Linked DNA regions of Homo sapiens: region 1 is linked to region 2. The links come from fine-mapping of genetic effects on gene expression. A gene starts in region 2. The other region holds a variant in brackets. All regions are shown on one strand. Distances are between the middles of the regions.

Region 1 (16,786 bases), 76 kb after region 2:
CATGGATAGAAAGATGTAACATTGCCAAGTTATCAATTCTTTTCAACTTGATCTATACATTCAATTTAATCCCATCAAAATTCTGGTAAGTTATTTTGTAGATATTAACAAACTGATTCTAAAGTTTATATGGAGGGGCAAAAACAAAAACCCAGAAAGCCAACTTAATATTGAAGTCAAAAAACAAAGTCAGAGGACTGACACTATCCAACTTCAAGACTTACTATAAAGCTACAGTAAGCAAGATAATGTGGTATTAGTGAAAGAATAGACAGCTAGATCAATAGAACAGATCAAATGGAACAGAAAGCCCAGAAATAGACCCATATAAGTATCACCAACTGATCTTTGGCAAAGAGTGAAAGCAGTACAATAGACCAAAAATAGTCTTTTTAAAAATGATGATAGAACAACTGGATATACACATGCAAAAAAAAAATTACTCTAGACACAGAATTTATATTCTTTACAAAAAAAAAACACCTCAAAATGGTTCATAGACATAAATGTAAAACACAAAACTATAAAACTTTTAGAAAATAACAGAAGAAAACCCAAGTAACCTTGAGTATGGCAATGGCTTCTTATATAAAACACCAAAGGCATGATTCATGAAAGAAATAATTGAGCTGGACTTCATTAAAATTAAAAACTTCTGCTGTGAGAAAGGGCAATGAATCTATTCTGTATGCTACCTTATTATGCTACAATGGTCGATACATGCCACTGTACATTTGCCAAAACCCATAGAATGTACAATATCAAGAATGAACTGAAATTTCAACTATGGATTTTGGGTGATAATGATGTGTTAAGGTAAGTTCATCAATTGTATAAATTGCACCACCACTGTGGAGCAGGATATAGGTAGTGGGGAAGGTTGTACATGTGTGGGGACAGGGGCTATAAGGGAAATCGCCATACCTTCTGCTCAATTTTCCTCTAAACCTAAAGCTTCTCTAAAGAATACAATTTATTCATTAATTATCATCATCATCATCCCTGTGACACAGAGGTTTTATGTTTTCCTCCTGTGCCTTCATTACCTTCCCTGAACCCAGTCACTTCCTGAGGTGATAATGATAGATATGGCCTTTTAATAAAACAGACTAAAAGAAATGCAAAAAGAAGGAAAAATAAAATTTCTGGCCGGGCGCAGTGGCTCACGCCTGTAATCCCAGCACTTTGGGAGACCGAGGCGGGTGGATCATGAGGTCAGGAGATCGAGACCATCCTGGCTAACAAGGTGAAACCCCGTCTCTACTAAAAATACAAAAAATTAGCCGGGCGCGGTGGTGGGCGCCTGTAGTCCCAGCTACTCGGGAGGCTGAGGCAGGAGAATGGTGTGAACCCAGGAAGCGGAGCTTGCAGTGAGCCGAGATTGCGCCACTGCAGTCCGCAGTCCGGCCTGGGCGACAGAGCGAGACTCCGTCTCAAAAAAAAAAAAAAAAAAAAAAAAATTTCTAAACAGAGAATGTAATTACCTTTCAGGTATCTCCTAAAATAGGATTGGAAACTTTGTCCATTCCTAGTGCTCTTTTTAATTTAAGATAAACTAGCTGCCTAGTGCTGCAATGTCTGTTGCTCCAATGATGGATGTGCTGAAGGTGGTGATTTCATCACAATGCAATATATCAATGTAGCAAAATTGCACTCGTACCCTATGAATATATACAAATAAATAAATTTTTAAAAGACCAACTAGCACCAGAGGCTGAACAAGAGTTAGAAGAAGGGATACTCCACAAAAGAAAGTGAAGTCCATATTATATGATCCCATTTATATGCAATGTCAAGAATATGCAGACTTGCAGAGGCAGAAAATAAACTAGTGGTGCCCTGGGATTGGAGGGAAGGGGCAGTTAACCAATTGTGACAGCTGAGAAGTATATAGGTTTTAGGAGGAGTTGAAGTGATGAAAATGTTCTAAAATTTATTGTAGCAATGGTTGCACAAGTCTGAATATACTAAAAGCCATACAAATGTATGTTTTAGGCAGGGTGTGGTGGTTCATGCCTGTAATCCTAGCACTTTGGGAGGCCGAGGTGGGCAGATGGCCTGAGCTCAGGAGTTTGAGACCAGCCTGGGCAACATGGTGAGACCCCCGTCAGGTTGCAGTGAGCCAAGATCATGCCACTGCACCCCAGCCTGGGAGACAGAGCAGGACTCTGTCTCCAAAAAAAAAAAAAAAAAAGTATTGTATACTTTAAACAGGTGGACTTTAGGGCATGTAAATTATACCTCAATAAAGTTGCCACAAAAAAAAGAGGTAATTGAGGCAAACCGACAGTGAAAATGATCAAATGACCAAGGGATGGCAGGAAGGGGGAGGACCAAGAGAAAGAATCAAAAACAAAGAGTTTGCTTGCCAAATTCCAACCTCAGAGGGGTGGCCACATGGAGATACTTCGACAATTTAAAAATTTGGCTTCAAGTTTTTAAGGAACTGCAGACAATTGAGAGTCAAGAAGCCAATCCTAAATCTCAATTCCTCTGTGAAGTATGTAGGGTTTGGATTAATCAACCTGAACCAAAATAAAAGACAGTTTTGCATATGATGTTCAACGAACTCTGTCTAACAATGCAGTTGTTTGCTACCAGCCTCCTTTTATTATGAAGGGAGTACCTTTAAACTCACTATAAGGAGTGACCTCTATTTTAATCCTTCTTGATGTTTTATATTTTAACATAGAATCAAACATGAACCTGAGAGAGCTGTGTACCCAGACTGTATATTCTTTTTGACCACATAAAGTTTATTTAATTTGGTTTTTTGCCCCTATGTCATCTGCTTCTTTTGAAGAATCCATTGAAAAAATATCCCTTGAAAGTCAACATCATCTTCATTGGAGGAGTGGTTTCTCTAAAGCATGTCCATGGACTTGAGTACATCAAAAGCATCTGAAGTTCTTGGCAAAGCATGGTGGCTCACGCCTGTAATCCCAACACTTTGGGAGGCCAAGGTGGGAAGATCACTTGAGGCCAGGGGTTTGAGACCAGCCTGGCCAACATGGCAAAACCCCGTCTCTCTTAAAAATACAAAAATTAGCTGGGCGTGGTGGCATGCTCCTGTAGTCCCAGCTATTTGGGAGGCTGAAGCATGAGAATCGCTTGAACCTGGGAGGCAGAGTTTGCAGTGAGTGGAGATCGCGCCATTGCACTCAAGCCTGGGCAACAGAGTGAGACTCTGTCTCAAAAAAAAAAAGAAAGAATCTGAGGCTCTTGTCAAATGCACGCATGCAAAGCTACTTAATCATAAGCCTGAGATTGTCACTTAGGATTATGATTCTATATGCTAACATATAATTCTGTATATTAACAAGGACCTCTTCTATTCATATCCCAATTGAAAACCACTATGACATATCACATATCTCTCCTTTGTAAGAAACCATGAGAAACATCTCTGATATAGTTTGGATATGTGTCCCCATTCAAATCTCATGTTGAATTGTAATTCCCAATGATGGAGGTGGGATCTGGTGTGAAGTGATTAGATCGTGGGGGTGGATTTCTCATGAATGGTTTAGCATCATCCCTCTTGGTATTGTCCTCATGATAGTACGTGAGTTCTTATGAGATCTGGTCATGTAAAAGTGTAGCACTTCCCCTCTCACTCCCTTGCTCCTGCTCCCACCATGTGAGATGCCTGCTCACCCTATGCCTTCCACCAAGATTGGAAGCTTTCTGAGGCTTCCCCAGAAGCAGATACCACTATGCTTCTTGCACAGCCTGCAGAACCATGAGCCAATTAAACCTCTTTTTAAAATAAATTCCCTAGTCTCCTGTATTTATGTATAGCAATGTGGGAATTAACTAATACAATCTCTTACTTCAATTGTAGGAATAACTGTCCTAAGCAAAGCACCTCACCTCTACTTATACTACAGCCAGCATTACCACACACGGTACTTAGAGATACAGTGAATTTTGTAGTTGACTATTCTTTATAATTTACCTACAGGAAGATTAGAATCCAATTTTCCACCTCTTTATATTTGATGTGCTGGTCTTGGACTAAGCTCATTTTCCTTTTAGTCCAATTACTTCAAATTATTTTAATTTGCTAGTTATCTAAGTCACCTCAAATACTTTTTGCAACAAGGGGGTGTAAACAAGCTATTAAGAAAGATCTTTAACAGTCTAAAGCATCAGGATCCTGTAGTCAAGGAACCAGAAGCTCATTTACGCAGTCACTTGCCATTCCTCCCTTGAATGCTTTATAGTTTCATGTCCCCAGGGGACAACTGTGTATCATCCTTGTCTGAGGAGCAGAAATGTAGACTGTTCATTTCTCAGTTTAGTGGCCATAATATTAGTGATGGAGACACTGTCAAAGCTTTACCTGAAGCACCCCTACATTTTTAGAAGGAACCGGAAGCACCCCTACATTTTTAGAAGGAACCGGAAGCACTCCTACATTTTTAGTAGACTAGAAGTCTACTAAAATGTAGACTGTTCATTTCTCAGTTTAGTGGCCATAATATTAGTGATGGAGACACTGTCAAAGCTTTACCTGAAGCACCCCTACATTTTTAGAAGGAACTAAAGCCCAGAAATAATAACTAGTTGGCTCAAAATTGTTCCTAGAATGAGAAAGCTGGGATAAGAAAGCAGGTTTCTTGATTCTTCACCTATTCCTTTTCTTACCACACCATACCCATAGCACTTCCCAATTTGCTAATTTCTATGGATAATTCAAGGAGGGTTATTGCTTCTTATTGCAAGTTGTCTTGTATTCTAAACAGTAACCTGAGGGATGCACTCTGGATGACCCAAGACTTAAGCACTAGGAAGACACCCTCTGTTTCTTGCTTTCTGGGGTTAGTTCATGAAAGTAGCTACAGCAGAGGGAACAATGACCAGGTGATGAATAGCCTGATAATCTACAAGCCATTGCTTAATTTCCCACTGGATTAGTCTGGCCCTTCTCCCTATTATCTCTAAAATTCTAATCTCTAGCATCCTTTTAGTGAGAGCATCTCTTAGAAATTTGAGAATCCTCTTGTTTCTATGGAGAAACTCAGTATGACATGAGCATGTTCAAAGAGAAGACAGTTCTTTGAAGAATATTTTATTGATGAGGGTTTTTTTCCCCCTTAAGAGACATGAAAGGTTTGGTCTGAGAAACCCAAGTATTAGACAGAATCATTTATACCTTGGGATTCCCAGGAACCAAAGTGTATGCAAAGTCACAATACTCAGAAGGGCAATTTATTTATATTATATGTCAATTAGTAATATGCAGATGTCCTAAAATTGGTTGTGGTTATATATTGCAATAATTTCTAATCCATTACTCATAAAATGACTAATGAAATTACAAAATACAGCAACAGATCTGATTCCTCTGAGTCACTCTGCTCCTATTCTTGCTCATTTGCTATTTTTTCTCTACACACACACACACATACAAACACACTTTCAGCAATTCAGTCACTCAAAGCTGCAGCAGTTTAGAGATCAAAGTTTCTACATTTCCAGTTTGAAGTTTCCTTAAATAATTAAACCTAATCTAAAACTCACTTAATGTTTCATGAATCTTATTTGCATTCTTCAGCTACATTCTACCTGGTTCATTAAGTGGGGGATGATGGTGAAGAAAAGTGCTTGGGGGTTGATGCCTAGATAGTATAAGAAATAAACCAACAAGCCAAATTAAAGATAATGTTAATTTGTAACCATTGTTCAGTTAGTTGGATTTAGTTATTGTGATTCCAAAATGTATGCAACTGAATATAGGGCCAACCTTAGGGTTCCTGGTATGCTGCTTTGACTGATCATGTTTTGGGCTGTGATGTCAGTTTACTTTCCTGAGCCTGAAGGGAAATATTCAAAATGTGAGCAAGTTAGGCAAGTTACGTTACTTCTCAGAACTTCAGTTTCCCCATGTGCTAGTTTCTTAGCTTTCAAGTCTATAGTGAGAATTAAAGATAATAGGTATCTGGCCGGGTGTGGTGGCTCACACCTGTAATCCCAGCACTTTGGGAGGCTGAGGCGGGCAGATCATCTGAGGTCAGGAGTTCGAGACTAGCCTGGCCAACATCGTGAAACCACGTCTCTACTAAAAATACAAAAATTAGCCGGGTGTGGTGGTGCACACTCATAGTCCCAGCTACTCAGGAGGTGAGGTGGAAGAATCGCTTGGACCCAGAAGGTGGAGGTTGTAGTGAGCTGAGATCGCACCACTGCATTCCAGCCTGGGTGACAGAGCAAGACTCCCTCTCGGTGGAGGGTGGGGGAGGAAGATAATAGGTATCAAGTACTTAATGTAGTGCCTGGTACATAATAGGAAGTTGTTATTGTTATTAACAGTAATAACAGAGGGGCTCTTGTTCTATGATAAGAAAAAGAAACTAGTTTTGTAGCACAATTAGAATAATTAGAATAATAACCACAAACTACTTTTCATATCACTCTACAGGCAACATCGTTTTGCTTGAAATTCTCTAGGAATCATTAAACAATTCCAGAATGTTTACATCTTCAATTTTCTGGAAAAGTATGCCCTGAGAATATAGAATATTGACACTTTTTAAAAAAAATATTGTAGTGCCTCACATCTGCTCCAATAAATTAATGTTATCTTGATTGACACCTTTGGTGGAGGCAAATGTAGGAGCCAATGAATAAATTGACCCGATAACACATCGTTAGCAAAATTCTGTGTTTTTATATCTTTTACTTTAACACACTTTGAAACATGTCAAGTTTGTATTCCTCCTTTCTGGTTGTGCATGGTCAGTTACTGACCTTCATCTGGCACTTTGTATAATAGAACATGTGTCACTAAAAAGGTCTTTATATGTTAGTCCTGAGCAAGCTTTGATGCTGTGGCTGCTCCCTTTCTTCATGTGAGTGGCGCAAATGGGAGGACCAGTGTGAATGATTGCAAGCTGTCTAACTTAACAATCTAGGGAGGTAACACAATTGCAACAAAAGAAACATTTTGTACAGCTTTTCTTGGGTGAGTTATAGTATCTATAAAGATGGAAATAGTTACATATTTCTTTATATTTTTGAGACTAAAAAAGCTGTAACAACAACAAAAAGGATCACAAAAATGCAATAAATGTGTCCATTGGTGTGTTTTTTGTTGTTGTTTTTTTTTGTTTTTGTTTTTGTTTTTTGTTTTTTGAAACGGAGTTTCACTGTTGTTGCCTAGGATGGACTGTGTTGGGGTGGTCTCGGCTCACCACAACCTCCGCCTCCTGCGTTCAAGCAATTCTCCTGCCTCAGCCTCCCGGGTAGCTGGGATTACAGGCATATGCCACCAAGCCCGGCTAATTTTGTATTTTAGTCGAGATGGGGTTTCTCCATGTTGGTCAGGCTGGTCTTGAACTCCCGACCTCAGGTGATACGCCCACCTCGACCTCCCAAAGTGCTGGGATTACAGGCATGAGCCACCGCGCCTGGCCAAATGTGTCCATTTTTATCACCTGGTTCATCTAGTATTCAAAGACAAAAGACTGACAATGCACATCGCAATATTCTGTGATTCTCTTACTTGGGTATATTCCCAGAAATTGATGTCTTTAAAATCAAAAGCACTTAGGAGGTATTGATGTTAAATAATATTAGGGTGTCATGTTAGTCACTTTGTGCTGTCATAAATACCATAGAATAGGTGGCTTAAACAACAGAAACGTATTTCCTCATACTTTTGAAGCCTGGGAAATCCAAGACCAAGATGCCGTCTGATTCGGTTCCTAGTTAGGGTTTTCTTCCTGGCTTGCAGGTGGCTGCTTTCTTGCAGTGCCCTCTTTTTTGTTTCACTTTTATGTTAGTTTCAGGGGTACATGTGCAAACTGGTTCTACAAATAAATCATGTGCTGTGGGGGGCTGGTGTACACATTATCTTGTCACACAGGTAATAAGCATAGTACCCAATAGGTAGTTTTTCCATCCTCCTGCCCTCTACTCTCAAGTAGGCCTAGATGTGTATTGCTCCCTTCTTTGTGTCCGTGTGTACTCAGTATTTAGCTCCCACTTATAACTGAAAACATGTGTCCTCTTATAAGGCCACGAAGCCTATCAGATTAGAACCCTACCCTAATGGCTTCATCTAACCTTAATTGCTTCCTAAAAGCCCTATCTTCAAAAACAGTCACATTGAGGGTTAAGGCTTAAACATATGAATTTTGGGAGGACACAATTCAGCCCATAGCAAACA[T/C]ATTTTTAATACCAAAGAATTAATAGATTAGGAATAGAGGGCAAGCAAAGTCAGGGAAGAAGAGGAATTTTACATGGTGTGAAGAGTAAATATTTGTGTCTCTGTTTTTTAGTTACTGAAGAATGAGCTGCCCTTAAGTTTACGGACTTAAGTTTTAGTACTAGGAACAACCATTAAATAAGAAGCATTTCCTGGCAAGCTGTCCCACAGAAAGGTGTGAACTAGCATCCTTCTCACAAGTTTCCACAGAATTCTTGGCTAACTGGCATTGTTATAGCAACCAGAGTGTCAATGGAAGCAGTCATGGCCTTCGTAATCAAGTATCACTATGGCAACAGGAGCCTCTGGGAAGTAAAAGAAAAAAAAAATCTTAAACTGTCAACTGGAATCAAAGACGTTTGAAAAGGAAAAAAGGCGGAGGCTGAAATGAACATGAGGCTAGAGCAAGGGCCAGAGCAAAGAGAAATGATTGTACAGAAGCTGAACAAACAAGAGAGAAGGGAAACAATAAGCAAAACAGAGGGCAGAGACGTGGCTCGCATTAAGAAAGAGCAAGGCAGGAAGAAACGCAGAAACATAAGATAGTCAAAGCCATGTTCAAATGAGAAGATTCATAATGTTTACCAATTTTAATAGCCCAGGGTCAGATAAGCATGGAATGTTAAAGTCTATGTTGAAACTCTCTAGTATGCTAATAGAAGTATTGAAGAGATCTTTAGAATGAGGCCACGAGATAGTAAGAAAGGGGAAAACCATTTGTGGAGTGCTTTTGGCATAGCATCCTGCTGACTAGGAATTCTTGTAATATTTGGTGTTCAAAGGTACCACATTTGAATGTGAGTCTTCCTTTATTGGACAGTGTAATTGCTTCAGACAAGGGCACATTGCCATTTGGTCCATTACAAATATATGTTTTCTTCATTAAAGGATCTTAATGGATTTTTTTCCATGAAACAATTAAGGGAATTACTCTAATACTATTAAAAAGTACGTGGCAATGTCATTTGGAATAAAACATCTTCAATTGATATTTTCTATATTTTATTATCAGACAGGACTGAAGGTTTTTATGGCCCAATATTAACTTTTTGGGAAGGGAAAATATATTTTTTATAAAAGATGCCACTAAAATGTCAATACTTCATTTGTAGAATTAAGAAATGATTTTCATAAGTAAGACATTAAAAAAGGAATGAAAATAGAAATTATAGGTGCAGTCATAAATAGTCAAGAGAAAAATAACACAAGTTTGAGATTAAAACATAGAAATAAAACCAGCAGTCTGGGTGCTTTGCAGAAATCTGGTCCCACAGATTCTAATAGGATTTTTTTTTTTTAGACGGAGTCTCGCTCTGTCGCCCAGGCTGGAGTGCAGTGGCGCGATCTCTGCTGACTGCTAGCTCCGCCTCTTGGGTTCACGCCATTCTCCTGCCTCAGCCTCCCGAGTAGCTGGGACTACAGGCGGCCGCCACCATGCCCAGACAATTTTTTTGTTTGTTTGTTTTTCTGTTTTGTATTTTCAGTAGAGACGGGGTTTCACCGTGTTAGCTAGGATGGTCTCGGTCTCCTGACCTCGTGATCCGCCTGCCTCGGCTTCCCAAAGCGCTGGGATTACAGGCATGAGCCACACTGCACCCGGCCTATAATAGGATTTTTTTTTTAAAAAAATGACAGGCATTTCTTTCACGGTATTTTGGGTGTGATTTGCTAAAATGGCAAGGGGTGGTTTGTGGTCATTGTTTCTTCAGCTAAGAATAAGTCCACTGGTTGACAGCCAGGATGAGGAAACCTCTTTAGGAAGGCCCAAGTATTCAGGCGGAGGCCCTGCTGACATGCCTTCATCAGAAGTACAGACCAAGTCACAGATCACATCACAGAACCATCATCTATCTGACCTTTGGGATCCATCCCATAAGCTTGGGTGCCAACAATGACTGCCTCTTTCTGAGAGTTCATGATTCAAAAACCAATACAAACCTTTTTACTGGATAATCCTCAGTTTAAAATATGGGTTTTTAAAAAATATTGCAGCTATGTTTTTGAATTTTTTTCTATTTCTCTACAAACATACACACCAAGCATCATTTGTAAAATATGTATAAAATTCAATGAAATACATAAATGACCAAAATTCTAAATGTTCTAGATACATGAGAAGTGAAATAAAAAATCAAAGAAACATGATTAGGAGTAAAATTAGGAATTGTACCCTTAAAAACAAGCTTTTTAAAAGCATAATGTGTAAACATAAAAGTACCTAAATTATAAATTTGCTACTTGTTGAATTATCACATAGGGAACACACATGTTTAATCACCTCCCAGATCATAATATGAAACTTAATGTCTTTTCAGTGATTTTCTAATAATATAAGAAAAGAGTTTGACATATTTTGCAGTCACATTCATTTACATTGTAAGATGGATAAGCAAAATAAAAAATATTGCACTGTGACTGTTAAGAATTTTTTGTACCATGTGCAAAGAGAGACCCCTGCTGGAACTTTTTTTTTTTTTTTTTAATTAGAATGTCTAAACCAACTCAGATGAACTGTATTGTTAAAGAAATGCACAGGTACACCTGAACTTAAAAGTTAAAAAAAAAAAAAAAACACAAAAGAGAAATAGCGATGACTCTGCAAGCTGTAAGATAAAATTTCTGAATACATTTTACCCCAAGACAAAGGAATTTTTTTTTTTTTTTTTTTTTGAGATGGAATCTCGCTCTGTGGCCCAGGCTGGAGTGCAGTGGCACGATCTCGGCTCACTGCAAGCTCCGCCTCCCGAGTTCACGCCATTCTCCTGCCTCAGCCTCCCGAGTAGCTGGGACTATAGGCGCCCGCCGCCACGCCCAGCTAATTTTTGTCTTTTTAGTAGAGTTTCACCGTGTTAGCCAGGATGATCTCAATCTCCTGACCTCGTGATCCGCCCGCCTCGGCCTCCCAAAGTGCTGGGATTACTACAGGCGTGAGCCACCGCGCCCGGCCGACAGAGGAAATTTTTAACCTCTCCACAAGAAAATTTCCACAGCAGGGGAGATTTTGGGGTTTTCTTTGATATGTTTTTCTCTGCTTATTTTCTTTTGATCTCCAAGCTTGAGTAACAATAGGTTCTAGCTGTTATCTGCCTGTCTTGACATATCTGCGGAGGTGGTAATTGACCCCAAAGTGAAAACCAGAGGTTCACAGTCAGATGGATCCATATCACTTACACTTTCTCTACTATGTGACTTGATTTATTCCAAAGTTCAGTACTGCATATTCGCTCTTTACTGGGATTTTCCTGGTGATATATTGGGAGTGTGTGGATGTAAAGGATGGAAACTGGATTTCCAGTCAGTCTCTTGTGGTGAGGTGGGCCAGTGAAGACAACAAGCAAGAGAATCTGGAATTGGAGCAATAAATGCATGGGTGTTGTCCTGCCTGAAGTGGAAAGGTAAAGGCTGGAACAATTCCCTGTCCCAACTCCCAAGCCCTTGTGAAGGTTTTGAGGGTTCCTTAGGCAGAAAATGTGGCATGCCCAGAGGGATTCAGGTGCATAAGACATGGAAATGATAAAACTTTTAGAACCTGAACTGCTCTAATTTTACCTAAAGCTCCCCACAAACCCCACTCCATGCATAGCTTCTCTATGTTTCCTCTCTCAGAAAAATACTACAAAAAAGCCCTCCGCTCCCCACAAACCCAGGATGTTACCATATTCACATCTCCTTCTGCTTCACTTGGACCACCAGTCATCAAATTCTGTTGATCCCCAATTCTTAACATGTTCCGTATCCATTTATTTCGGCTTCTGAAATGCTCTGGGGCTGCTCCGTGAAGTTGTAATTTTTCACCTGGACCACCATGACAGTCTAGGAATTGGTGCCTTGACCTTATCAATTCTTCAAATAGCAGGGATAAAATCATAGCTCTCTTATGATTCAAATATTTCATCTCAGTTCTTTTGAGGTCAAAACTTCTTGGTACAACATAAAAGGCCCGTTCTGATCTGGAAACATCTTAGGGTTTTCGTTCTATCTCTTGGTAGACACTTCCCCACCTTTCTATACTCAGACATTCCTAGCTGCTTGGGGTTTTCTGACAATATCTGCATATGCTCTTCTAACAGGAATACCCTTTGCCTGTTATTTACCATGCCAACTGCTTGTAACTTCCTCCGTTTTGAAGCTTTTATAATCCTTTGCTTCCAACCCGTTGAAAAGAACCATTTCCTCATGCTACAACTATAACCTGTACATACTTGTATGGTCACCCCTTTGCCAGTTTCTTGAACCTATTTATCTACCTGCTGCTTTCTCCAAGCTGGAAGGTAATCTGGGCCACACCTGCTTCTGACTGATATTCTTAGTGCTTAGCCCAGGGTCTGGCCCTAAAAGGAGCTCCTTAAATACTGGTTAAATATGTAGTAAGAGGCTTCAAGGACTGAACCCCAGTGATTCTGAAGGAGTGACTGCTAGAGATGTAGACAATTATTTGTTGTTTTAGCTAAGAAGTAGCCTAAATTTAATTTTGTGAAAAATATATTAATGGCCCTTTTGTTAAGCAAAGGTAAAGACAAATTAAATTTCAGAATGTCCAAGCCAGGACACAAAAAAGCTAAGCTGAGCTACATTAGCAAGTGCAGTAGAGTCTCTTCATTTTTGTCAGAGTGGCATTTTTGCAGAGATTATCATGGCATTCAAGGGGCATCACGCTAGAGATAGGTTGGGATAAGGATATAATGTTCCCCTCCCTTGTGACATGGTCAAAGACACTTACAGCTACAGGCAGTAAGCTGATCTCTAAAACATGTCATCCCCTTGGGCTAAAGAGACAAATGGGCAGCAGACCTGACCAAGGGAAGGAAAGAGTTGAAATATAAAGATATTTGCTTTTTCCTTTCCTATATTTTTATTTCCCTCTGTAAGCTCCAAGCCTTCAGTTGCATTAAGCACTCTAGCTGGTTTCAGTTGAGCTTTGGGGAAATATGTGAATAACATTGTCTACTCTCAGGACAAAGCAGCTTAGGAGCAGTCAGGGCATCTCATGATGTCCACTCATCTGGGCTGAAGGAGTGACAAAAAGAGCTCTTTCTACCTCTTACAACATCCTTATAAGAACTAGGAAACGTGCCCATTCTTCTTCAAAGGTAACTCTTTACTTGCCTCTGCCAGGAAATGGATTTGGTATATTAATTTGTTAAAACAAAACCCTTAACTCCCATCTGCCAGAAAACTGTTACAATAAATCTATGATGTCTATAATGAAAATGATGCCCCTTATATGTGGTGCCCTTGTGCATTACAGAATCTGCATAGCCAGACACAGCATCTGTGTTAATGAGAGAGACAAAATGCAAAACATTAACACGTCCTGAAGATCCTGAGTACTATTTGAGAGTGAGCCTGCTAATCATGGCAGGTGAGGGCTGACCAAGAACATTATCACTTCTGTTTACCTGAATGAATGATATCTTTAAACAATTGCATAATGTGTACATTTTCCCCAGACTAGGCTGCAAAATAGTCTGCTATAGCTATAGTTCAGGGCATCTACAATTACAGGAAAATCCCCTTTGAAGCCAGTCCAAGACCTTTCCCCAGATACTTCTTTACAAAAGAAAGGCCGAGATGTCTAGTCACTTTGTTCAAATCCAAAGAATTGGATTCCTGCTGGTTCTGACTTAATCTTTCTCTACTTAAAAGATGTAAAATATCCAGCATTTTCTGTTTATATCTGAAACTATCCCCTCTTACTTTGCAGGAAGCAAAGAACTGGAATGCTAAACCACACAAGGGACCAGTGTGAGGGCTAAGTGTGACAGTTGGCTGGTTGGCCTGTGGACTGTGAAATGCAAAAGAGAATTAAATTTTGCATTCTGGGATGGGGATGCTAGGAAGAATGGGGCAATATGGGACATGTGGTCTAATGGGAAACGTGGGAAAAACAAGCACACCAGAACAAAGGGTCTATAACAGATGAAGACTGACTTGGCAGGGTTAGGAGATGGAAGTGGAGGAAATACCCTGGGGTGACACGGCATAGAGGGCGACACTCTACCCAGAGAAACCCAGGAGCAGGAAGAGAGCTGCTAAGGCCAAGTGGGTTCGGAGGGAACATTTGTCACCATTGTGCCTGTTCAAAATCCAAACACTGTTCTTACTTGAGGTTAATCCAAATAGACGAGAGGCAGGACTCCGCCTCTCATCATAGCATCATAAGTGAGGCAGATGTTCCTTTTCCCAGTTCCCTGGCAGCAAGGATGTGGGATGTAGCCCAGTATCAGCCAACTGACTGCTCCAGCCCAGAAGTTTAAAATTTAGGGGTGTCATGCTAACTTAGCACAGGTTCCCTAGGAAACAAAGCCTGGGCAAAAAAGCTCAGATGCCATGTTTTTATCGAGGAGGTGCAATTCCAAGGAAGCAAAAGTGAGAGGGAAAAGGAAAGTGAGACAGAGGGAAGAAAAGGGAAGGAAAGGGGAGAAGGAAAATACAAAGTGATGCACCATTAGGCTACCCACAGCTCTCAAGAAGACACAACTTGCTGGCTTAGTTATGTGAGACGGTCCCTATCGAGAGCATGGAAACTGTCTTAGGGGCAGCTTCTGGGCAAGGCTCTGTGTATCTATAAACAGGTTGGACTAGCCCTCAAGCTGCTTTGGCTTTTTGACAAAGAAGCCATAGTGACAAGACATTGACCATGCAAAACCCAACCCCATCCAAGGGGGGTGCCTGATCTCCTACTTCACAGGTGAAGTGGGAGATTGATAAAATAAAAGATATGATAATGTTTGCAGTGGAGCTTTTCACACCATGAGCCATCTCTCTTGAACTGCCTGCCTGGAAAGCCAGGCACGTGGCACAAGCCTGAAGGTATGAGGGTTCAGCGGCTCTGAGTTGGTGCAGAAATAGGGTCTGGTACTAACAGATAGTCACGGAAACCAAGGAAGATTTTTAAGCACACATCTGGTATTCCAGGGTGACCATGCCAGCAGTGACATTGTAACAATTGCCCCCATAGCTAGGGGAAGATGGAAATGAGTGTTTATTTTTTAGTTCTCCATGGACTCTGTAAACTACTGGTCTTCTTTCCAATAAACCAGCTTTCAGCTTAAGTAACTAGAATAGAATTGATCACTTTCATAGCCCATTATCCTTTGGCTTGCAAAATGCAATAATACTCTTTGCTTGCTTTGGATGAGGTTCTGTGTGAGAACATTTATGTATATATAGGGGCTTGTGACAGACAAAAAAAAATTTTTACGGCTCCAGAATAAATCATCAGTGAAAACGTTTGAAAATTATTTCAAAATTTTAAAACACTGGGAAAAATGTGTTTTGCTGTTTTGTTCATTACAGAGTATGAACAAAGAAGCTAGCATTTGCTGGGGGTTACTCAATGTACCATGTGCTTTATGTATGTTATTTCATTTAAACCTCAGAACAACATATGCAATAGGCATTAAAAAGAGACACCACAGAGAGTTTCAACAGAGCCAGGACGGTACAAATACAATTAATAGCCATTTCTTGGAAATCTAAACATCTGTGTTTTGTAACACCCTATCCCTCCTACATCTTTATTCATATTTTTTGTTGGTATCTTTGAATTCCTCATTGTATTTAATACAACACCTCTCACATAGTAGGCCCTCAAAAATGTTTAGCAAATGGAGTTGGAGTCATGCCATACGTAGCAAAAAAAAAAAAATGCCTTTTACAGATTAAGTGAAAAGCTACTTTGTATTCATTCTGCATGTTATAGCAATGGGCTTTCAGTTTCTTATGGACAATGTACAACATAGCAATCATGATGTCTCTTCAAATTTGTTAAAAAAAGAATTTACCTGTCTGCATATGTCTGTGCATGTGTAAGTCTTTTGTTTTAGAAAATGATGGTGACTGTGATTACCATCCGCAAAGCACTAAAATGACTGCTCTGTAATTAACAATCATTTCTACACTGTACACACAAAAATTCCCATTTGATTTTAACCCATTGTCACTATCAGTGAGCTCCTTGCTCTTCTCATGGTAAACGGTAACTCGCTACCCGATGTAGTTTCAGGCAGATTATTTTATGAAACAGTGGGGTTTCTCTTGCCTCATCAGTTCCTAGTGGCGCCATACTCATTCATTTAGTAACTATTTAATATTTATGGAGCACCTCCTGAGTGCCAGGCGCTGTGGGGCTTTGGTGCTATTTGGGCTTCAGTGAATTATAAGCATGGCTTTGATTCCCCACATGGGTCCTTGGTTTTTGTATTGGTTACATGAAAATATGTTACTATAACAAAGAACTCAACAAATCAGTAGATTAAGGAAGATTATGTCTCTCACCTAATGGTCCAGGACAGGTTGGTGGGCTCCTCTGCCTCACATGCCATTCAGAGACCCCGGTTCCCTTTCTCTTGCTTCAACTCTAGGTTGTGGCCCTCATTTGTATGGTCAAAGGTGGGTCACAAGCACCTCACTCTTCCAGCTCATAGGAGGAAAAGTGCAAAGAAGGCTGCGTGTGCAGTGTTTTAAGGTTCAGGCCTGGAAGTGACATGCACACGACTTCTGTTCACACTCCACTTGTTACATCTAGATGCAAAGGGGCCTAGGAAATGGTAGTCTGTAGCTAAGTGGCCA
Region 2 (16,786 bases):
GTTTTTTCCTTTCCATATTCAGGGCTTCCTTCAGGAGGTCTTGTAAGGCAGGCCTGGTGGTGACAAAATCTCTCAGCATTTGCTTGTCTGGAAAGGATTTTATTTCTCCTTCGCTTATGAAGCTTAATTTGGCTGGATATGAAATTCTAGGTTGAAAATTCTTTCCTTTAAGAATGTTGAATATTGGTCCCCACTCTCTTCTGGCTTACAGGGTTTCTGCAGAGAGATCTGCTGTTAGTCTGATGGGCTTTCTCTATTTAAAAATTTTAAGTAACAATTCCAGACATTCATCAAAAGATATGCTTATCTTCATGCACCTCCTAAACACCTACTAAAACGGCATCTACAAATAATGAACCCCCTTCCAAATAGAGTGAAGAACCACTAAATTAGAGAAACATCTTTACTGACCTCTAGTAATTTCTAATTCATAATGAAATATATAGACTAGTCACTAAACTCTTAAAAGCACTGATGCTATAAGAAACGTAGAGAGCATCCACAAGCACTAAAAATGCAAGAAACTTAAAAATTGGAAACGTGTACACACAAAAACACAGTATTTTAACTTGTTTTTTATTACTGATAAGCACAAAACAAATTCCAAATGCTGAAATAACCTAATAATCTACCTAGATCAAAATCAAATATTTTATGTGATCAATAAAGGAAATGTAAAATCCAAGAAATTTAGAGTTTAACTGTACCTCAATTGTAAATCCAGTTCAATCTTATTAGTACAGTGTTAAACGATTTACCTAAAGTCACACAGGTAGTAAGAAGCAAATTTAGGCCAAGCTATAATTATCTTTACAACAGTCAAAATGAATTCAAAAGATAGATTAACACAACCTCCCTCAAGCCAATATCCTTTTGTTGAAGTTAAACTTTATTAGTTTGGGGTGGTTTTTTTGGGTTTATTTTTTGTTTTGTTTTTGTTTCTGTTTTTGTTTTTGCTTATTTATCATCTGTTTAAGAATTTTTCAGATTTTATAAAGGTAACGGTTTATATATTACATAAGAGCATTCCAGAAGCCAACATTATGCTGGAAAAATAATGTTAAGATTGATTATTTAACCTAAGTGATCTCCACCCAGGCTGAGACCTAAAGGATGAGTTTAATATTAAGCAGACTGGAGATGGGGCAGTTCAGGCACATGAAAAGCCTGAAAGTATCTTCTCAGAAATGAATAAAAGACCAAAGCAGCTGCAGTGAAATGAATGGGGAAATGACTTGCGGTAAGGGAATCTGGAGAGTGAAGCAAGGACCAGATCATGTTGGGACTTATAGAATCAAACAGAAATCTTCAACTCAGTCTTTATAGCATCATCTATATGTATGCCATGCAAAAACAAATACATGTCAAAATCTTGATGTTCAGGATTATCTTACATACTGAAATCAAACAGTATGCTATGGTATATTTACCTTATTCTAAAAAACAAGCCTTTAAAATATCACGATAACCCTTTGATCAATATCCACCATCCTGCCAGGTTAATAAGGCCATTTCATTCTATCATGCCATAACACAGTCATGAAAAGGGTGGACATGGAATATATGAGTAAAGATACATAAAAGAATACATTTTGGTATTGTTTATTTACTTACAAAAAATAAATGACATGAGACTAATAGATTAAAATAGAGTCTACTTAAAAGTGCTTGTATTCTTTTTTCTCCTACATGACCAAAAATATTGTATACTAAATTTAAAAGATCAAAATTCCTTTTATACAATATAAAATATTTTATAATACTTCATTACCTCATAATATTCCATTAAAAGGAACATAGCTTTGCAGTTTGCCTTAAGAGAGAAAATAAGTACAGACCAAGAGATGTGTTACCATGCAAGACTGATTTTTGTTAAACTTGAAAGTTCTTAGTATAAACAAACTAACTTCAAAAAAACTATTAATAAAACATACAATCTAAAATGTGAATATCGATTTTCTACATAACTGGCATTTCTACAAAAAAAAAAAAAGTTTAAGCTTGAAAACACTCTTAGAAAGTATATGTCATCAAAAGCATAGAAAATGCTTAAAGGGGCCAGGCGCGGTGGCTTCACACCTATAATCCCAGCACTTTGGGAGGCCTAAGTGGGCAGATCACCTAAGGTCAGGAGTTTGAGACCAGCCTGGCCAACATGGTGAAACTCGTCTCTACTAAAAACACAAAAATTAGCCAGGCGTGGTGGTGAGCACCTGTAATCCCAGCTACTCGGGAGGCTGAGGCAGGAGAATTGCTTGAACCCGGGAGGCAGAGGTTACAGTGAACTGAGATCACGCCACTGCACTCCGGCCTGGATGACAGAGACTCCATCAAAATAAAGACAGACAGACACATAAGAAAGAAAAGAAAGAAAGAGCTAACTTAAGTTTTAAAATTATTTTTTAAAGCCCAAATTTGAATGAAATCCCATTGTAGTAACGCATGTTATAACAGCTGTTCATAAAGATTAGTCAACTGTACTGGTGACAGACTAATGTGTTCACAGTTTGGTGAACTGTCTGGAGGGGAGATATAGTAAAATTACGGGGATGATTTAATGGTTACTGAATTTTTGCTAAAATTTCTCTAAGATCTTAGCTTCTTAATTTATACTGCTAAATAGCAGCCAAAATCCATTGCAAATACTGTAGAAGCTTAACAATTTCAAGATTTTTAAGTCCTAGCATATGTCCCATTTATTTCATGAAATAATTTTCTGAATGCCATTTTCCACCCACCTCAAATTCCAACAATATTAAACAATGCCTTGAAAATAGTAAGGTTGTGTTATTTTACTGAATATCATGTCCAACAGCTGTATCTAAAATTGGAAACTGATGTCAAAACACATTTTAAAAACTAAATTTAATAGAAATAGATTATCTTTTAGAATAAATTGCTTAAGAAATGCTGCCCCCACCAAAAAAAAACACAAAACAAAAAACACTTCACTTGTTCACAAGTTTTAAATATGCATAAGTTTACTAGTCTCAACTGACCCTTACTGTGTCCCAGGGGTATATACAGATCAGTTCCTGGCACTATTGACCAATTCCACATAATTACTGTCAGATCTTTTCATTTCAGAGTTAACCCCCAAAAAAGCATTAGAAAGAAAAAATACGAAGACACTGAAGCATCATACTTACTTCAGATTACAAATCTTTTAAGATTCTGTCTCAGAGTCTAAGGTCTAGACTTAACCTGTTTTTTTGTACTACCATTTACCAATGTACTAAATAGAATTACTAAACTATAATAATGATTTACAGAGAAAAAAAGAAACTATTTGCCTTTTACTTCTTAATCCTTATCTAAACCGTCTTTCCTACCATATTCATTCTATTCATTACACTTCATATGAGACAAATCCCTAATCCCCTTTTAAACTACTATTTTTAAAAAACTATAGCCTGAATAGGTACATATGATTTACGTATATGTAAGGACAGTGACATTTGAATGTCTGCAATAAGAAAAGTAGGATTTTTACATTTCTAAGACAGACATCAGCATAATGTACTAAAGAACTTTTAACTACTATAGCTGTCTAAAAATGGAATAAGCTGATTTTCAAAGAAATAATACACTGTAAAAAGCTTTACAACTGAAAACATTTAACAGATATTACTTGAATAATCCTTTCTTCTTTAATCTTTAAAACAATCCTGTTAGGTAAGTATTAACAACCCCATTTTACTGATTAAAAAAACTTAGAATCGGAAACATTAAGTGACTTGCTCAATACCATCCAACAACTTTGTGGTAATACAGAATGTGAAATGGATGCTCTATCAATACTGCCCCCTCCACCCTTCCTCCCACTCTCCACCCCCATCTATTGGCAAAATCTCTGAAACTTTCCCTGGTACCATTCCTATCAATATACAATGAGATGTCCCTCCCTGAGTCATGTGACAGTATATATATATATATATATAGATATATATATATCTATATATAGATATATATATATATATATAGATATATATATATATATAGATATAGATATATATATATAGATAGATAGATAGATATAGATACCTTTTGTACAGGGCTTATTAAATGGATTGTATAATAATTAGTTATTTGTGTACCTACCTCCTACATAGTAAGCTACTTGTTTCCTACGGCCATCTTTCCATCCTTTCAATCCAAATGCCTTGTAACAGATTGTAAAATGAACAGACAAATTCAGTTCTTTTGGTTATAAATTCAAAGAGCTCTCAAGAATTTCACAGACAACTTCCTATCACCTTATACTAACCTCACCTTACACTAATAATTTTCAGTCATGTTACAACCATTTACTAAAGTTCATCAAATGTATTAGAAAAATGCAGGATTTAAATTATAAGGCCATAATTTAACATATGGGTAATGAGTGAAAGCTGAAGAAAGAAAAAAATAGCATTCTGTGAAGAGTCAGCAGCAATGACAGAAAAATAGGAAGTAAGCCAGAGCCCACAAACCAAAAAAACAGAATAAAAACCAGTCTGACAATCCCCTGAGAAGCTGGACACCCATGTCCAGAAGACCTATAAAAACAAGCTTTCTATTTCCCAACATGTGTGAGAATATGTGCTAACCTATGCAATGGAAATATAAAGAATAGTTCAAAGACTAGACAAAAGTATACAAAGGACAAAATTCAAAATGGTCAAAAGATATGGATATGTCCAGAAACTAGTCCAGGATGTCAAATGACTTTGCTCTACTGATTCTGAAGTGATGCTTTCTTAAGGGCGATTGTCTGTTTCTAGGGTCTTTCTAAAATAAAAGTCCCCACCCCCTTTTTGGACTTGAGGTATCCAAAATTGTTTTATTATTTTTGTTTGATTATCTTGAAGAGCAATCAAAAGTGTCAATGGACTCTCAGATGAAAAGCCACAAAAAGTTCAAAAACTTACAAAATTTATTAGATTAAAAACTGCTCTACTAAGAACCATCTCTAATGTGTTCTGAAGCCGAAATCTAGGAAGACAGTTACTAAAGAAACAGCCAGTAAAGGAGAAGTAGGTGGTTCCTTAAACTGTTGTTTGAAAAGAAACTCCTGAAACAAAGTCTGGAACATCGTTTTGCACACTATTGCCTCACAAGATCCTTGGCTACCCTTAACTCCACATATTTCCCCTTAAAGGAAGGTTTTGGTTTTTGTTTTATTTCATGTGTGTAAAAATTTGGGGGTAGGAAGAAAGGCTTGAAAGAGAGCATCCCACTCCCAATCCCCTTTCAGAAGAGCTTAATTAAACCCACTCGTTAAAGTTCAAAAGAAAACAACAACAACAACAACAACAATAAAAACCAAATTTCTCAAGAGTTTGAAAGCCCCAGAATGTTGGAGCTGAAAAGGATCTAATCCAATAGCTTCATTTTATAAAGAAGGAAGTGAGTCCAATAGTAAAAATCTATCAACTTTTCTAAAGTACCGTTAGCTAAATAATCTTTTGTTTACTTCAAAAACTACATTTTCACCAGTGAACTTAAAAAATATGTTGTTCCCTATATAAATTACTTTTAAAGGCAAAAACAACATTCACTGAAAGTTTTCTACAAAAAATTATATCAAAGTAATAATGGAAAAAAATCAGTATAACTAAAGTATGGTTGATATTCAAAATCACCATTATTTTTAAGGTGATCCATACCCCAAATGAGCTTCAAAACAGCTGATCAAATGCACCAGGCAGTTAAAGTTACCTTTACTTTATTCAATATCTAACATTTATTGAATGCTTACAATTTACCAGATACTACGTGAAGTGCTTTGCATGTATTATATCATTTATAAGAATAGAAAAGCAAGCTTAAAAACCATAGCTTAATGATAGTCATATACTATAAAAATAAAGTAAATCCTATTAAAACCATGATTCAGAAAATTTAAGGCAAATGAAGTTCCACAAATAGTAACATTCCCAGCTCGTCCCCCTAAACAACAAAGAGCTTTCTCCATTTCCTACAAACAAGACCATCTTCACTACTTCCAGGTTATAAAGTCAGAGATTCTGTCTGAACTTCAACAAATCCAGACAGCATCTCTCTCTCTCTCTCTCTCTCTCTCTCTCACACACACACACACACACACACACTCTCCCTTTCTGTAAATTCAATAGGTTAAATACAAATACGATGGAAAATTTATCAACAATAACTTGTGATCTTGCCAATTACTTCAACAACTCAATTTTTGAATACTTCAAGATTCCTATTTACACAATATAAAAGTCAACATAGTTCCTCTCCTCCATTTTTTTTTTCATAGGATTACAGTATACCTGGCACTAAAATACACACATCTTAGTGAAGTAAAAATGTGACGACGAGGAAAGGGTATCAGAGTAGAAGATAAAGGTACTACTAGCATTATCTTGTTGCTTGATGTTTATAAACATTTTTTAGAAGATAATAATTCTATGGGTAAACTGTTGTAAACTAGTGAAACTATCCAACAATAAGAAGAAAGCCATACTCTCATGCCATTTCATATGGGGAAATTTATATCACAAATCTTTACAGCCTTACATAGATAAGGTATGTGTGTAAACATCTTAGACACTTAATGTCTTTCACCTCTCCTTTCAAGGAATAATAGCAACTTCAATTTTTTACTGTTTTTTCAAATCAGAAGAGGTGAGTTTAATGGATTAAATTCGTAAGTATTTTTCAGTTCTTAAACACCTTATCAAAAGAAATTTTTACATGCTTATTTTGAAGCATGCTTACGATACTGGAAGTTTTGTTAAGAATACTTGGATGAAGTCAGTTCAAAGACTTTTTTTTCCCTGAAGTTGTTAATTTTTGGACAATATAAGAAAAATCTAGTTTGTCACCAGCTGTCCAAAAATTCGACAAGTAGCTCCCTCTCCTGGAGGAAAAAAGTGAGTTCCTCTTCAAGCTGTTAAAACACTTGTACTCTTAAAAATATATTTTTTAATACATGAAGCAATAGACAGCCAAATCTGAGTTTTTCTGTATCAATTAATATCCCAGTATTACTGTAAACAGCTATAAACAGTTTTATAAAAACCTGTATAAATACTAAAAATGTAGTTTCCTAGCTAACAAAGGTAATGAACATCATGGTTTGACTTACTGTACAGCAACTTTTGTACTTGATCACAGAATGTTGAGATACCTTTCATTTTGGTGGTTTTATACAATCATCAAACCTCAAGTATATTGTTCAGACTTGTAAATTCACTAGCTTTTTCCAAAGATCAAGTGATTCTACAAAGAAAGCAGCGGCTCTCTGAAAACTCTTACTTAAAAATATCTTCTTCCTCTACTTGCTTGTTAATCAGGTTTTAAAAAAATTACATGCCTATATGACTGGCTGGTACTAAAGACCCCAAAATTATATTACACAGTATGTACTCAGCTATAATTATAATACATATATTAGTATTAGTACTATTCCTGGGAACTGGGTTGTGTAAATTAAAAATGTAATTTACAAACCTCACTCTAAAACGTGGAGACATGTTTCATCACATACTAAAAACAAATTCTTATCCTATGGCCCATGTGTTTACCCACTCAAAGTAGCTGTGTCATTATGTGTCATATATAAGAAAATAATTGTGCTTTTTCAAAAAAGGCTGTTTCATCACTAAAGATGAGAACAGATAAAGAGTAAGTTTGAGGGAAAAGTTAAACAGAAAACAAGATACACGCACACTTGACTATCTCAACTACAAAGTAAACTGAGAATGCCATGAGAAGTTCAAACTTAAAAAAATATAAAACCTTCCTGCACAAAGCACAAATTTACCTTAGTGTAAATCAGATGCCAAAGTTTCTCAAATTCAATGCTATGACTACACTTAAAAAGAACTGGCCACATAATGTTCTTAAAATATCAATTCTACTGTTAGTTGTTACTAATACATCACTATTCAAAATTACCTAAAAAAAAAAAATCTTTCGGTAGGGACGCCAGCATTTTAAGTACAGTAAATGTATATTACTAAGACAGCTCCTTGCTAAATTTCTGGGTCTCAGAGAATTTGTCCGGGTATCTACTTCAGCAAAATGCTAACACGATCTCCAAGAACCAACCTTGCTAATACAAACAAGGTTCTCTTTTAAAGATAGCTTAATGAGAAACTTCAGTTCAAGTGTATGTACATCATAAATACAGGCTAAACCTTTAGAGACTGACTAGTTTGGGAACTACTGAATAAAGAAAATTTCTTCAAGGAAAGTTTAACCAGTTTTATGCATCCATTCAGTTAGGTGATACAGCAGTATTTAAAACACACTCTGACTTTAAAATTAACCCAATACACATAGCCTCTGATGTCCTAAAATTTACTAAGACCCACACTAAAGTTTCATCTGAAGCCAAATATTTGTGTTACATTATTTGGCTGAACTAATCAAACGAAGCTGGTTTCTTTTAAAGCTAAAATGGGCAGTGTAGAGCTTGAGAAAAGAAAATAATATAAAGAAATCTGCACTTTCCTATTCATGCATTTTAGAAAAATAAAAAAAAAAAAAACCCTGTACCTCCAGCCCTCAGTGACAGCAACCCAGAAAGAATGTGAAGTATACCAAAATTACTTGTGAACTTTTAAGTCATTTTTTTCTCTTGTCATGGAAAGGAGCACGGTAACTTTTCCTGCAGACAGAAGGAGAAACCACAACCCCACAGTTGTAATCACTGTTCAAGGACACCGCACTGAAGCTGGGTGGGAATGTGCAGAAACAAGCAAATACTCCGAAAGTAAACAGTGTTTTTGTTTTTTGTTCTCTTTTTGATGTCACCAGTAAAGATTCCATCCTATTCCCCTAAAAGGCACATTACTTTTCAAAACAGTCAGACGAGAGCAAACAACGCAACTGGCGAAAGGCAAGAATCTCCTTCCCTGATACTCGCCCTGGCCTAATATTTCATCTCCCTTCAACTAGATTACCAGATGAATAGGGCAGGTCACAGGATCAGGATGAAAACGTCTGTCTGGCCTTAAGCCCTCCCAGCCCCAAGTCCAACGCTGCCTTACTTTTCCTGTTTCTGATTCTAATCCCACCCAAAGCTCGGCTCACAGATTAAACCCACCCCGACCACTGTCCCGTTCTCCGACTTCATCCTCCCCAACTTGTCCTCGAATTAGGTGTCCAAATGACTGCCAGGTAAATGAGCGAAAACAAAGACTCTGAGACCGAAGTTAGGCCAGCCACCAGCGCCAGAAAAGGAAGAGCGAACGCGGTGTAGAACACTTCAGAAGAACTAGGAAAGGTCCAAGGGCTCGTGAACAGTCTGCGCCGCGGACCTGCAAGCCCCGGCAGATAAAAGCAGAAAGGCAGGGTAGAGAGCGGAAGGAAACTCGCAGTAGAGACATTTTGGGGAGTGTTAAGAGACGCACTCCCTCTGGCGTTGAAAGATCCACAGTCAAATCCGAAATGCGCCCGAATCTAGGTAACAAGAGCAGACTCTCCATCAGCGGGGTCGCCCTCGGCCTCCCTGCACAGCCCCGGGGCTCCCCCGGAGACGCCCCTTCCCACGCCTGCAGCCTGGCCCAGCCCGGCCGAGTCCGAACTGGCGGCAAGCGCTGGCTGAGCCACTTCTCCCGACTCTGATTCCCACGCGCGGCCCCTCCCAGGACGCCCCCTGCCCTGGCTCCGCGCCTACCTGTAGCACCAGCGGCTCGGGGTTGAAGGCCAGGGTCAGCAGCAGCTGCATGCGCTCCGAGTCCTTGAGGTTGCGAAGCAGGAAGCTGCCCGAGTCCTTGGTCTCCGCGTAGCGGCGCACCAGGCGGTCGAGAAGGCGCTGCGAGGGGCAGTGCACCAGGTCCGACCAGCCCTCCACCGCCTCGGGCGTGAGCAGACGCACGTCGCCGTTGAGGCGCGCGAACTCGGTCCGGGGCATGGCCTGCAGCAGGTCGCAGCGGGGCCGGCCGGTGGCCCGCTTGCAGATGCTCTGGTCGAGCTGCGCCAGCTCGCGCTGCGAGCCGAGGCGCTTGAGCACCACTCGGCGGCGGCCGCCCTCGCGGGGCTCGCCGTACTGCGCGAAGTACACGTTCTTCACGTTGAGGAAGTCCAGCAGGCGCAAGCGGCCCCACGCCTCGAATACCACCTGCCCGTTGAGGAAGCGGCGGCACCAGCTCGTGCCGAAGCACGCCGGGCACTTATTGAGCTGCAGGAAGCGCCGGTCGGTCAGTTCGTTGCGCTGCCAAGAGGCGAGCAGCGACGGCGAGTGCAGCACCATCAGCACCAACAGGCTGCCCAGCGCCGCCAGCTTCAGCGAGCGGGACAGGCGGCCCAGCTTCGGGGGCACCAGGCGCCACATACCGCCCGCCCGCCCGCAACGGGAGGGCGAGGGCACCCCCGGGGCGCCCCCGCCGCGCCAAGACCCGGAGAGCTACCGGCAGGAACCCCGGGCGAGAGAAGGAGCTAGCGCGCGGGCTGGGGCGGAGGGCGGAGTAGGTGTGTGAGAGAGGAAGACGGGGAGCGGGAAGGCGCGGGCCTGAGCGGGCTGCGACTTCTCCCAGTCACTAGTCTCCACAACTCTCGAGCTCCCTCCTCCTAGCTCCCCGCCCTCCGACTCCGGCGGCGCCTCCTCCACGCCAGCCAAGTTATAGAGGAGCGGGAGGGGGAGGGAGCGCGGGGACCCGACGGTCGCGCGCCCGTGCCCGCGCGCACGCGCACTGCTGGCTTCGCACAAGAGCTGCGGCGGCAGCCAGCCACGACAAGTGGGGTCTGCGAGGAAAGGAGGGACTCACGGAAGGGGAAGAGGAGCTAGGATGTCTCACACCCACAAGCAGCAACGCACGTCTCAGAGCCGCACACCCTTGCTTGTGCGCGCTGGCTCTCCTGAGACCAAGAAGGGGAGCCGGGGGCGGGGCCAGAGGGGCGGAGCGAGCGCGTCGCGCGCCGCCCGGAAAGCGTAAGCGGGAGCTCGCGGGAGCGGGTGTGGGGGCGGTTCAGAGAGGGGGAAGCTCGGGCTCTTGAGGTGGGGGCATGAACTCGCGGTTTCTGGTTTCAGAAAGAGTCTTAATTACAGTCATCTTTTATGATTATTGTGGTTTACTGGTGCGTTCCTTTCACTATTGTGGAAACGGCCCTTTAAGGGAGGAGGGAATAAGAAGAAATGAACTGAGGAAGTCTATTGCAAATCCTTCCCTCTGGACGGCGCGCGAGGCGGAGGCAGAGCTGGCGCGATTGCCTCCCCTCGCCTTATATGGGTTGGGTGCGCGCCTGGGGGGTGGGGCGAGGCCGGGGAGTGCCCGACGGGGGCTTGTGTTCCCCTCAGCTCGTGCTCCTCGCGGTAGGGGGTGGGGCCTGTGAGGAAGACGGTGAGAAAGGCTCGAGTAGTGGCGGGTTTGTTGGAGCTTCATCTTTGGGGTTGTATCTGTAAAATCATTTAAAATTTTCTTGAGTGAGCACAAAATAAAGTTCTCAAGCCACCGTGTTAAAGGGAAAATAGGATGAAGGGGAACCGACGCGGCCTGGTGTCGCCAGGACGTCTGCCCCAAGCGCCGCGAAGAAGCCGGGAAGAGTTTGCCAGGCTTGCCTCTGCTGCCCGCCGGCTGCCCTAGCCCGTCCCCGGAGCCCTGCGGTTCCTCTCCGCAAAGCTGATTTCCCGGTGCCGCCCCTGAGGGTCCCTGAGGAGCGGGCCGCGAAGCGTTGCCCTGGCGGTAGCCATGGGGACCCGGGGCTGCTTGGTGCTCCGCACGGTCACGTTGACTCAGTCACCCCAGACTGCAAAAGTAAGGCGCAGATGCCGCACGAAAGCACTGTGTTTAGGGATAAGTTTCAGGGGACCCGGACTGTTTAGCAGTAGCGCTAGTAGATACATTATTATGCTATTCACTTTTAGTGCTAGAGTAGTTAAAATGAGAAGTGATTTTTAGTCTGAGGGACAGGTGGTTCCTGATACGTTATTAAACAACTGAGTCTTAACTGAGTTAATTTTAGGGCTTGAACAGTGCTTTTAGAAGACCATGGTAACTGGCATGTGTAGATCAACTCTACAGCGGGTTAATAAGAAACATCTATACCAGGTTATCAAAAGTAACAATACTTTCAGTATTGTTTAATTGTAACAGGTATTTGTTACAAATTCTTATAAGAACTCAGATTTTGAAAAAAAAACTTTGAGAAATTTAATAAATTCAAAATAGACGTGATTTTGTAACGATTTGCATTGAATACGGACAGACAAATTGAAATAATATTCAAAGCTTTCTAGAAATTGACTTACTGTACTTAAGTTTGGCTACTTCTGCCTAGTGCCTTATGCCGCCTTTGGTGGGAATTTTATTTAACTTGCTTTCAAATATCCCCAAACTCCATATAATATAGAGTTAAAAGCTCAAGTGAGATTTTCTTAGGAAAAGGAGTTTGGTGTGATGGTTCTGGAGACCTGTGCTGTAGTTCAGCTGTGAGGCTGCTGCTGCTGCTGAATTGTAAACAAAGCAAGTTATTACTTAACTACAAATTTCTTCTTTCTGACATCTTTTCTATATGCCTCATAAATTTGTTCGATTAATAGTAGACAATCTATTTAGAATTGGTTTAAAACAATAAAAGTACTACATAAGTTGCCATTAAACTGATTAAGCTGAGAGAACCGGGGCATAGTGAGACTATTTAGGTAACTAGTAACAGGATTAAGGAGGTACCTGTACTGCTTCTTTGTATCGAATAGGTCTTTGGAGTTCTTAAACTATTCTCAGCCTCCAGATGCTTGGAATTGTATAGGCATCATTTGAAACATGGAAATAAAACACGGTTACTAGTCTACACAATTTGAATTTTGAAAAACATTTGCTCTGCATCTAAGTAGTTTACATTTGTTTAAAAGCTCTGATCTTTTCAGTTAAATTTTCTAGATGTTTATCAGGAGAGATAGTTTTCAAGAACTTAATACATTCATCAAAAGGAAAAAAGTCTTAGAACTATACAAGATAAACATATAGTGTTCCAAAGTGCCATATTAAGGTTTGCAAAATATCTCTTAATTGGGGCCAGGCACGGTGGCTCACCCCCGTAATCCCAGCACTTTGGGAGGCCGAGGCAGGCGGATCACGAGGTCAGGAGATCAAGACCATCCTGGCCAACACGGTGAAACCCTGTCTCTACTAAAAATACAAAAATTAGCCAGGCATGGCGGCGCACGCCTGTAGTCCCACCTACTCGGGAGGCTGAGGCTGGAGAATTGCTTGAACCCAGGAAGCGGAGGCTGCAGTGAGCCGAGATGGCGCCACTGCACTCCAGCCTTGGCGACAGAGCAAAAACTCCGTTTCCAAAAAAAAAAACTCTAAGTGAAGGTTAATGTGCATTACTCACCTTTCCTATAAACTACAGGATGCTTTCAACCAGTGGATCATTTAAAGTTCTTGACCATTATTTTAAGTAATGGCAAATAATGTAATTTCCAGTGCATTGTAAAATGTCATTTTACAGTAACTATCACTGTTTTAAATATTATCAGATGGAATTAAATACCATAGTAGTTTGATACTAACATCCATTTTGATAGTCAAAGTTTTACATTGTATTACTATTCTATTCTCTACTGCAGTGGTTCTCAGCAAGGGACTGTTGCCTCCCAGGGGCCAGTTGGCAATGTCTGGAGACATTTTTGATTTCATAAACTAGGGAGTGGGGTACTACTGTTGTCTAGTGGGAACATGCCAAGGATGCTGCAAAATATCCTACATTGCAAAAGACAACCCCCAACAACAAGAAATTAACCCACTCAACATCTCAATAGTGTGCTGTTGAGAAACCCTGACTAACAAGAATTCTATATAGTACGGTTTTAGGCATAAGCCTTATTGGTTATCCTTTCCTGCAGCAAAAAATATGTGTATACCGTTGTCCCTTGAACAACACAGGTTTGAATTGTACTCATACATAGATTTTTTTCAACCAAATGAGGATCAAAAATATAGTATATGCTGTATATGAAACCCAAGGACAGCTGACTTTTACTGTAAGCAGGTTCTGCAGGACTAGCTGCAGAACTTGTGTATGAGAGGATTTTGGTATACCGGGGGTCCTGGAACCAATCCCAGGTATATACCAACAGACAACTGTATTTAAATTTTGTGTATATCCTGTGATCATAATCTCCTAAATGCTAACATAGGAATTTTTTGTATGATTACAACTATAATTAGTGTTCAGCTGATCAAAATAACAAATATCCCAATTTGAATAAATATAAAAAGTAACATTTTATTGAAATGTATTTCTTAATTAGCTTGGGCATTTTTTTAAAATTAGGTTTCCATGAACAAATATTATTTATTGCTAGAATCAGACGAAGTCTAACATCAGTTTTCTCTCTTCTTCGCTTTTAGAGATGTAAGGGCCAAAACATCTTCATTTATGTTTAAAAATAAAAAGAATGTTTATATAGCAATTTCATTCATTTCTTTTTATTCCTTTTGACTAGAATCATTTACCGATAGTGATCTATCATCAGAATATTCTGAATGACATACCAATTAGGTTTTCCAAGTTAGTTGGATTTAGAAGCAAAGCATTGGAAGCCCATCCTGGAAAATGATTTTTTTACTTGGGTATTAGAATTATTTTATCATATTGACTATATTCAGTGCTCTGGCAGTCATGTCCTGAGACAGTGCACTATAGTAAGATTCAGGGTGGATAAGAGGTATTCGTTTTGTAAAGTCCAAAAAGATAATTTCCTGTATACTAAAGAACCCAGAACAGTGTCTGGTTTAAGTGGTTTGTTCCAGTAGTAGGTGGATTAACAATTGAAGGAATAAACACTTTCAGTATTATTGTAATAATCCAAACTAGAAATGATGGGTATTAGCTGGTTAAAAAAAAAAAAAAAAAAAAGCTAGCACATTCTGGATATATTGTGAACGTAGAGCTAACAAAGTTTACTCAAGATTTTAATGTGAGAGAAAGGCAAGCATCAGGTATTATGGCATGGTTTTTGTCTTAAACTATTGTAAGAATTACCATTTGTCTAAGCCCTTTGGGGCTGCTGGAACAAAAATATCTTAGACTAGTGGCTTATAAACAACAGAAATTTCTTTCTCACAGTTTTGGGGGCAAGTCCATGATCAAAGTGCTTGCAAATTTTGTGTTGGGTGTTTTCCTCATTCATAAATGTTTCTGCTGTGTCTTCGCATGGCAGAAGGGACAAGGGAATCACTCTGGGGTCTCTTTTATAAGAATACAAGTCACCTCCCAAAGGACCCACCTCCAGATACCATCACATTGAGGATTAGGGCTCAACATATGAATTATGGCACAAGGGGGTGGGGGTGCAACTGACACAACCATTCAGATCCTAGCACCATGTACTGAGATGAGGGAGACTGAGAGGAAAAGGATGAGGAAGATGCAAGTACAGTTCACGTGTCCATATTCTTCAGTGTCCATTTATGTTTCAATTACCTGATTTATGTGTGTTAGGAGAGGTACCTTAAGGACCAGTTTTGTTAAAGGGTTTTTTTTTTAATCTGTTTAGCATTTTAACCGAATTTTTAAAACATCTTATTGTATTTTAAATCCATAACTCTCTACATAGGTATTTTCTAGGACAGATTCTGTATCAAACAGTTGGCTTCATTGGTTGTAAAAATAGAATTGTCAAACATACATACTAAAACCATGATTTTGCTTGAAATAATTGAATCACATAATTTTCTGACCTTGTCAGAATAATACAAATTAGCCCAAATGCAACTGTAACATTATAATTCATGATTTATATTAATTCAAAATATTATGCAGTGTTATAGTTTTCCACATTGACTAGGTTAATAGAGAGGCACATTTTCCTTTTGCTCAGTACATTTTTAAAACTTGTTTTTTTCCAGTTTGTTTCAGCACAGAACACAATATTTACAAATATTTAAAAAATTAACACATCACTGAGAGGGGACTTATGTACCCACTTGTTAAGATCTTTTGAAAATTAAGTCATGTATGTAGGTATAAATTAACATTACAATAGTCTATTTTAAAGATTGGCATGCATTCTAACAGTGTGGTTTATTTAGTTCCAACCATGTACAAGATTCTGGGTGTGTGGTTTCTCAGAGTCCAGTGGAGGAGGCAGATACATGCATACCAACATTCATTACATGTTTGTGACAAATAGATAAAATAAATATTAAAAGAGCACAAACAAAAAATTCCTGTAGCTATAGATGTTATATTTGCACTTATATGACTCCCCTCAGGAGAATAGGCTGTGTACACTAGGAGAATTTTGCTGCTGCTTTGTCAACTGTTTTTCTCTCAAGCCTCACATCCTAAGTCTCCTACCTTTCCTCATTCTGACTTGTGCAAATGGTGTTCCTGCCACCTCTATGGATGATGGAGGCTACACAGCTCTTCTCTCTGGGCAAGCATGCCAGAGATCTTGGAGAACAGCAACTGCCTGTTCAGAGCAAAAGCATTCATCCGGATAACAAAAGTGCCACCTTCTTTCTGACTCAGTTTTCTTTACCAGGCTCCTTTTGTAGAAACCACTTGTATAGGTAAAAGACCTGCTATAGTCTTCAATCTAATGGCCGTGCCAGTTTTAAAGGTCAGCCACAGCTGGGAGAGAGAGGCCAGGTAAGTGTTACACTTGGGTATCAAATATAATGTGTATTTAATGTTCAAAATGATATAGTCCAGAAATGTCCATTTTGTTTTCTTCTTACAAAAGGACTTATAAAACTCTATAGGCAAATAATTAAGATATCTAATTTTGGGGAACTAACTATAGAGATGTCTTATTATCCAGTGTAGTCTAATCAAGGAGTATGGCCAGTAGAATTATGGGTTCACCCAAGAGAGTCTC

The links. PIP is the estimated chance that this variant, and not a neighbour inherited with it, causes the effect.
Region 1: its variant is fine-mapped to the expression of DIPK2A in lung (TOPMed, PIP above 0.99).

Annotation. Positions count from the first base shown.
Region 1 is chr3:143,889,872-143,906,657 of GRCh38, reverse strand. No RefSeq gene overlaps it. Among named protein-coding and RNA genes, the nearest start is that of SLC9A9, 50 kb to the right of the region's middle. The variant T/C (reference allele first, on the strand shown) is at 8,174.
Region 2 is chr3:143,965,838-143,982,623 of GRCh38, reverse strand. DIPK2A (divergent protein kinase domain 2A) reads right to left here and starts at 10,801. Exons shown (of 3, transcript NM_173552.5): 1 at 9,635-10,801. The coding sequence starts at 10,291. RefSeq lists enhancers at 9,066-9,325, 10,334-10,914, 10,966-11,055, 11,326-11,435, 10,915-11,495 and silencers at 9,476-9,715, 10,206-10,855, 11,186-11,235.